2 linked regions of the Homo sapiens genome follow. The protein of the gene in region 1 purifies or fractionates together with the protein of each later gene. This does not show direct contact. Each region holds a gene or a part of one and is shown on either strand. Other genes may lie near its edges.

What was found. The genes of interacting proteins can lie anywhere in the genome.
Region 2: the proteins of LRRC3B (region 1) and IMPACT purify together in Homo sapiens (affinity purification with mass spectrometry; one large-scale study listed by BioGRID and IntAct). This does not show direct contact.

The regions. Positions count from the first base shown.
Region 1 is NC_000003.12:26,621,121-26,625,847, reverse strand, and holds the start of LRRC3B (leucine-rich repeat-containing protein 3B precursor), read right to left. Parts: upstream 3,077-4,727; 5' UTR 2,611-3,076; intron 2,250-2,610; exon of another isoform or gene 1,796-2,249; intron 1,768-1,795; exon of another isoform or gene 1,490-1,767; intron 1,203-1,489; exon of another isoform or gene 337-1,202; intron 1-336.
Region 2 is NC_000018.10:24,446,911-24,450,669, reverse strand, and holds part of IMPACT (protein IMPACT), read right to left. Parts: intron 2,578-3,759; coding exon 2,487-2,577; intron 852-2,486; coding exon 717-851; intron 1-716. UniProt on the Homo sapiens protein: Translational regulator that ensures constant high levels of translation upon a variety of stress conditions, such as amino acid starvation, UV-C irradiation, proteasome inhibitor treatment and glucose deprivation.

The DNA.
Region 1 (4,727 bases):
GGGTTGTTGTGAGGGTTAAATCTAACACAAACACACACAACATCAAAGATAGTGTCTGGCACATAGTAAGAACTCCACAACTGCTAGCTAGCACTGATTGTTACATTACTATTTGTCTCCCCAGAACAGTTCAGCAACCTGAAATAAATCCACCTTGGTGTGGATTTGGAGTCTTTCCTCAAGTTGCCAAGGAACATGGTCTAATTTGTTTCTACATGCAAAAAGAAGTGGCCAGAGCGCAAATTCAGGCGATAGATAAGCACCCAGAAAGAAATGAGCCTTGGGGGGGTCAGAGCTAAATCTCGTGGAGTGCGAGTTTCAAGTCTAGGATCCTACCTCAGGTATCCAGGTACTTCTGAAGAAGCCCGGCTCTCTCACCAGGCCTGGTCTGTGAGGGTGTGGCCTTTGTGCTCAGGAGCTGCACCAGGAGCCTGCGCACAGGGAATCCCCGTTCTGCTCCTTGGGGCTCTGGAGTTTGCCACCGCTAGGCAGGGAGCTAGCTGCTCCAGGGGTGCCCCAGAATGGGAGGGACTGACCTCGGGATTTCTCCCGGGAGCCCTGGCGAGTCGACGTTTCCTCCGATGTGGCCAAGGCGAGGGACCCAGAAAAAGGAACTGCTCTGAATTTTGCTTTTTCCCAACTGGTACAAGGCAGCAGGAGTCCTCTGTAGGGCACCCGCGGAGAAAGTAAGAAAAGCCTGCACGTGGAAGGTCTGAACAGGGAGGACCTAAAGGTTGTACAGGGTTCCAAACCCACCCAACCTCCAAATGTTTCCCTATAGGGCTACTAGGAACCAGGGATCCACTCTCAGCCAAAGGCACCTCTGGGAGAGGAGCATGCACCTCCTCAGGGAGAGAAGGGTTAAGTGAGGTGCTTACTGGCCTTGGCAGTCACTGTGCCCCCACCAGGAAATAGGGGGCTTGATGGATAAAAGGGAGGGGAGGCTGCCTCTTCGAAACAGCCGACTAAGCCCCCTCCCGCAAACGGTCTTGCACTCCAGATTGCTGGGGTGCAAAGGAGAAAAGAGCCTCCCCCTCCTGCATTCGCCAGAGCATCTGGAGCCACAAGAAGAATCTACCTGGGAGCTGCAAGGTGGGCAGATCCACCTCTGTCTGGGCTCCCAGGTCTAAGAGCTGGGTCTCCCCTCACCCGAGGCCCACACCTCCTAGCTCTGCGTTTCCCTGCACGCCCTCCAGCTCTGCGCTCCCCAGCCTCCCGGGCGCAGCACAGGGCTCCCCCCACTCCCTCGCTCCGCCCAGGTGCGATTTGTGGAGGGGCGGGGGAAAGTGGCTCCCACCGCAGCCTCCGCTCCTGCGCTCTCCTCCAACCACTTTGGACCCCTGTTTACTCGCCGCGCGCTGGGGACTCCCCTCTACCCCGCACACACGTCTCCCCCTGGGAGGCAGGAGTCCCCTTCCTACACTGCGGCTGTGGAAACATCCTTGACTCCTGAGTGCCTGGCAGGGAAGGTGGGCGTGGGTCTACCGACCTGGCTGCAGAGGTGAAGGAGCGTAGAAGCAAGCGGGTGCCAGAGAAGAGAGCAGACTATGGTCCTCTTAGAGCTTGGAGAAGCATCCCTAGTCCACGATCTGACCATTCAGTCACCACCCAAGATGCCAACGCATTCAGATTCTCGCGGGGAGGTTTGTTTGCTTCTGGGGAGGAAGATCGCCCCATCCCAGGCACTCAGCAGCCTGCCTTCCCAAGTACCCAAGGGCCCGGCATTCCGGGGCTCCATTCCTTGTCTCCACGCGCCCCCAGGTACCCAGCCCCTCCCCCATCTGTATTTACATACCCAGGCCAGCGCCCTCCGGACTCAAATCCCTTTTCCTCTTCGTCAGATGGCCTCTCAGGGCTGGCCGCTCGCCCACATTAGCAGTACCTTTTCATTTCCCTCAACCGTGGGCAGATCTACCCGACCCTCAGCTTCCTCCTCCACCGCACGAGCAGCCTTTCCCTCCCTGAGCCACTTACTTCACCCACCCATATCTGCACTTGCAGTTCCCACGGCGCACAGCCGCAAGCCACTCCAAAGGTTTCATTGCCGAGTTGGGGGTGGCGTGTGCAAGGATGGACTGACTCCCATCGCGCTGGACGAAGCTTCAGGGGTGGCCGCAGCCATCCTCCATGTCCCACCTCTCTTATTTCACCTTCTCTGTCCCTACCCAGCTCCTAGAGGCAGGACGAGCACTGCTGGGTCCCAAACCCTCGCCTCAGGAGCCAGAGCTGCGGGGAGTGAAAAGTCGACTGGCAAGAACACACAGAGAGAAATGGGCAGATGCATATGGCAAGAGGGGCTGGGGGAAGGGCAAGAACTAAACCTGCAAGTTGCACAGCACGGGGTGAGCACCGCGCAGGGAAGGGGTCACAAAAGTTTGCAGACTATTGTATAGCAGCCGGCTGAACAGGAGCGAAGAGGGTCGACTCTCTCTCTCCAGGAGGAGGTCTCTCCCAGGGTCTGCGCAAAAGGGATCAGGGAGGCTTAGACAGGCACGGCTTAGAACTGGTGTAATAGTTCTCCTCTACTTGTTCCTTGGAGGGACGGCCTAGGTACCCGGGCAGAGGGATGATCCCGCGCTCTGCGAAAAGCAACAGGCGGCTGCACCTTACCTTGCGCCAGTCCCGGGCCGGGGTGGCTGCTCCATCCTCGTGGCTCAGGGAGGAGGCGTTGGGTGCGTATGCTTAGGGGTGTGCCCGCTGCCAGGGCTGCAGCGGCCGCCACCTCCAACCAGCTGCAAGCCGAGCTGCCCACCTGGGACCGGGCCGGCCCGGCGGGCTTGGCTCCCGGCGAAGGCGGCGGCGTTGGTGCGCGGCGGCTGGGGCGCGGGACGCAGGCAGTGCGTGGCGCGGCTGGCGTCTTCGGGCGCCGCCACCGAGCGAGGGTGCGGCCCCGGGCGGCCGTGCGGGGCACGACTTGGCTCGCGTTGCTGCGGCGGCCGCTGCAGACCCTGCTCCAGGCGCCGTAGCCTTGCAGGAAGAGCAGACAAAGACAGGAGAGAGGCAAAGCGCCGCTTGCCCAGAGATGCAGTCGGCTCAGTCAATAGAGGGAAATCGCCTCCAAACCCAGGCTGGGAATGAGGGAGGAGGGGCGAGGCGGCTGGGGACTAGAAAAAGCAGCAGGGAATTAACGTGACAGTCAGAGCCCAGCCAGTGCCTCGCCGGCGCTGCTCTCTCGCCTCGCGGTTGCGGGGTCCGGAATGGAGAGAGGAGGCGGGGGCTGAGCGTTGGCTGCCGGAGACCAGCTGAGGTAGGAGTATTAACTCCCTCTGCTGCTCTCGCCTGCCTTCCTCGCACCCCCTTACACAGCTCTACTTGCAGCAGGCTATGGCCCCATTCTTTCTCCTATTTTTCTAACTACTGAGATCAGAGCTGAATTAAGCTGGTGAAAGGAGCAAAACGTGCAAGGGATTGATTGCCCTCCTTGGGGGAAAAGCGGAGGCTTAAAATCAATTCGACAAATGAGTGTTTACTGGGTGCTGAGTACTGTGCTCCGCTATTGTGAGGGAGGGTTATGAATAAGGTACCCCCCTCCCGCCCCAGGGTCCGTTGTCTGATCTCAGAATCAGTTTCCCCTGCAGTTCTGGAAGCCCAAAGTTTCGGGGTTGAGTTGTGGTCCCTGATCCCGATCCTCAACCAATCTAGCTTTCTAAATCAGAAGAAGGTGGAATTCAATTTTCCTTTCTCCTTCCTGGGATGACTTTAACCTGCAGCCGAAATGGAGTCTATAGGCCCCTTAAAAAAGCGCGCGCACGCCAGTGTGTGTGTGTGCGAGCGCGCTCGCGTGCGCGCGTGTGTTTTAAGAGTAAGTCAAATTAATGGTTTTAGTGATGTTCTTATTTCATGATTTTAATTATTTACCATATCTGCAGTAGACACCAGTTTGGGGCAGAGGAACCCGCCTCTCCAGACTCTACAAATACCACCTTTTTTTCTAAAGCTTTTTTCCGCTACCCCAGTCCTCTGACTCGAGGCAGAAATCTTTCCCCTCTCTTTGCCCTCTCAGAATTTTATTTGCCAATCACTTGCGGAACTTATATATTTATAGATTTATCTCTTCACTCACATATGAGTATTCCCTGTGCTTTTTGTTTGTTTGTTCTCACTGCAACATCCAGCAGTGTTTTGTATCTAATGGGTACTCAAGGAAAGCTTATCCAGTTGAAGGTCATTTTCTCCTTCTGTATGAGCTAAATCTCAGTGTCTCTAGAATTAAAGAGACTCCAGGGATGGAACTTTTGATTTAGGGTGTGGTGGAGGGAACCACACATACAGTTAGACTCACAGCCCCTTTACTGGAAAGGTAATAAAGTATTTAATTCATTTTGGTCTCTAGACAATCAACCTTCTCCCACTGACCACCCACCTCTGTTTCCTGAATTCCCAAAAGCAAAAGAAAACCAAACTGCTAAGCAACTGCCTAGAGCAAGACATGTATGTTCAGCTGCCAACACCTAGAGCAAACCCATTCCAAGTGGAGAATGACCAAAAAATCTTGATTATTTCTTGACCTGTGTCAAGTATGTTGAAAGCCTGCCAAAGTTTCCTCATTTCTATTGAAGCACTCTTATTCTGGATGCATTTTAGAACAGTTTGAACAGTGTTACATTGCTCAGAGGTGAAGAAAATTGCTTTGTAGTTTAAGGATATTTAAGATTTGTTTGTTTGTTTGTTTGTTTTCTGTCCCACCTTCTACAAATTGCACGATAGATACCTCAGATCAGGAATGC
Region 2 (3,759 bases), on another chromosome or scaffold:
CATATATGTATGTATGTATATATGTTACAGTGAGGGTATAATCACTTTTATATGTGTCATTTCTGTGTTTTAAAGGGTACTTTCACTTATAGGCTAATATTTTTTAAACAATCAAGAATAATCAAGGAAACCTTATTTATCTAGTGGATTTATGTTTGAATAATTTCAAAATTATTTCATCTATTGCCCCACTTTCCCAAGGCAGTAAAATTTAAATAAGGCAGATATGAACATACCTAAAATATAAAACAAAATAAACTCAAAGTATAAAGGAAGAAAGCATCTAAAGGTATGCCAGTGAAGGGGGAGATGTTTTGACACTAACAGAGAATTTCAGAATTTTCTAGATGTTTAAAGAACATCTAGTCTGATGTGATATCAGCTACAACCACTCTGGGGCTCAATTTTAGGGATGGAACCTAGTTGGTCTTAAAAGGTTTTTCTAATTATAAAATTCTATGAACCTATGAAATCAAGGTGCGAAGGGATGAAGTGGTCTGTCCTATGAAATCAAGGTGCGAAGGGATTAAGTGATCGGTCCAAAGTCACGTGACTGGCCAGACACACTGTTTAGAGTCTAGGTCTCCAGGTTCTGAGTCCAAAGGTTTTACCAATTCACCACTCACATTCTGATTCATTCTTAATTTTCTGTCTTTTTAAAAAATTCCCAGGCAGTGATGAGAAATTCTCTAGATGTAGTACGAAGAGCCACTTACAGGTGAATTTGTGTAGTTCTTTTCCACTAGTATGTTTCTGGCACAGTTGTTGATATGTTTAAAGCGATCTGGTCCTAGCAGAATCCCTCCATACCAGCGTGATACTACCACCATGACATTCTTCACATTCAAAATCTGTTATTTTTTGGAAGCATAATTAGATACATAGACAGACATGTATAAATATGAGTTTTAAAAAAGGAGAATGAAATAACCCATGTATAAAATTGCACATAAAATTTCCCAGTGACTTTAATGGTAGAGCCATATGAGTGAGTAGGCACTGAGTGAGATTACTAACAATTCAGGGAGTGAAATGGAAGAACAGAAGGGAATCTGGAAAACCATCACTGTGTTTCACAATGTCCTCAAACTCCCAGATTTGGGGCAACTGGACAGAGTGAAGGGGAGACCATGCAAGTAGGATTCTAGCACCTGGTGACTTCAACCAGAACAGCTAAGTTTAGGCAGCATTTTACCACTAGGCCAAATAACAACAAAAAAAACCCTGCTTCTGAACAAAGCTACAGGGGCTGCACGAGGCATCAATATCCCTGGTGCTATTAGTAAGGTTTCATCAGTTGAGATCTAGATCAGTCTCACTCTGTCACCCAGGCTACAGTGCAGTGGCACAATCTTGGCTCACTGCAACCTCTGCCTCCTGGGCTCAAGTGATCCTCCCACCCCAGCCTCCCAAGTAGCTGGGACCTACAGGTGCATGCACCACCATGCCCAGCTAATTTTTGTGTTTTTTTAGTAGAGACAGGGTTTCACCATGTTGCCCAGGCTGGTTTCGAACTCCTGGGCTCAAGTGATCTCCCCGCCTCAGCTTCCCAAAGTGCTAGGGTTACAGGTGTGAGCCACCATACCTGGCCGTCTTCATCAGTTTGACATTTGTCAAATGCTGCCCTTAATGTGAAGCCCACCAGTTTACAGGCCTGACCCACAAACACAGTTACTATTCAAGGGAAAGGCCTTGTTAGAAAATAAACCTTCACATACAAGAGCAGAAAAAACCAGGTAACTACCTTAGGAAAAAAATAATCCAATCCTAAAATTAATGAACAATAAATGATCACCAGACAGATGAAGAAAATCCAGCAGCATGAAAGAGAAAGGACAAGATAAACAAACAAAAATGGACCAGGAAAAATTTTTTTAGGGGTGAGAACATCTTAAAAAAGAAACTCTAATTAATATAATCAGAGAAATTTTAGAAGATATTGGAGCCATAAAACAGAACAGGATATTCTTAAAAAGGAAAAACAGAAAACAAGAAAGAACTCTTAAAAATTAAATATATGGCTGCTAAACAAAATTTCAAATTCAACAGAAATTTTGGACAACAGTCAAGAAAATGTCTCAGAATATAAAGACAATGAGATGGACAACTCAATTTAAAAAAAAAAAATTCTGGATCTATCCAGAAGTTCCAATATCCAACTAACCGGAGTTCCATAAAGAAAGAATAGAAAAAATAAAGAGAAGGAAATTGTCAAAAAAACAAAGTGTTTTCCCAAAGTTGAAGACAATCTTCTATTGTCTATGTCTTGAAAGCATAGCACTTCTTATTAATTATTTGCTTTCTGTCCCACATCCACTGGTTAAAATTTTCATTCAATCAATATTTTAACATCAACTACTAATTAAATCAAATATATCTTATGTTACATAGTTCAACTGACTTAGCTATTACTAAATGGAGCTCTGTTTTGTTGAGAAATTTTATGGCTTGTACAGAACAGGATTGATAGTTTAACTTACACCTACCTCCATGAGATGAAGAAGACGCCCACCAGCTGCTGTTTCCCCATCATCCTCACAATCCTGTAAGAAGGTCTGTTTATCCTCACAATATATTCTGCAAATACATGTAAGAGTATTACACTTTGAAACTAAAATATTATAATAAAACTTATTCCTCAACATTTGTGATCATTTTGATTACTTCCAAAATCAGCATATTCATTTTTTTAAATCCTTCCTGAAATATGTATTATATTAGATATATTTTCACTGACGGTTTACTATCCAGTATGTTTGCCTTTTTATATACTTGGGAAAGCTAGGAATCAAAGGCATCTCCTTTATATCAGAAATGTTGCTATTATGGGAAGGTGAATTTATCCATGTGACATTCCCCTTACTTCATTTAACCTTGAAGTAACAAGAGCAATCATTGAAAAACATTTATTGAGAATATACTGTATAAAAGCAACAGGTACTAAGACATATTATAAAGGAAGTAAGTGGCATGCATCTGTCTTCAAAGAGCCTTAAGATGTAGTGAAACAAAAAGCATATAAAAAAAAGATGAAGGCAACAAAACCAACATAAGGTAATATTTTATACTTTCCTCTCATCTTATTCCAGCCATCAAGCATTTCTCTATTTTCTTCTAAGAATGTAAAGATTTAAATTTTCCTCTGGATGGTTACTAATATTAGAGACAAATCGTGGTATTTTTATCCATTTAAACTAGAAAGCTATATCTGAAATAATAATGTAGGCCTACAATACAGTAAAATAAGCTTGGCAAATAAGTGCTAGAGAGAGAAAAAAAAAATAGTGTCAGTTACAGTATGCCATCTGGTGGATTTCTTAGGGCCCTACCAATGGTATCATGTGGAACTGGGTAAATGTAGTAAAGACATCCTCCCAGCTCTGGCCATAAAAAGCTGTAAACTTTTAATGTAAATACTAAAAGCTATAAAAGCTCATCTACACACCTAAGTCAGTTATGTTACCTTACAGCAGTCACATTCATTCATTCACTCATCCTTCCTTCCCTTCATCCATCCATCCACTCAATAAATATTTACTGACCATCTACTATGAACATTAAAGTTAAAATACTATGAGTACTTTTTTCTTTTTTTACATAGCTTAGATACAAGATTGTTGAAGCTGTAGCCACAGCCATAGAGGAGTGAAATAAAGAAAACAAATGAAATTGGATTATCAAATTCAGCTCCATCACTTAACTATGGGATCTTGAAAAAGCTAACCTTTTTACAGTGCTAGAATTGCTAACTAATAAGAG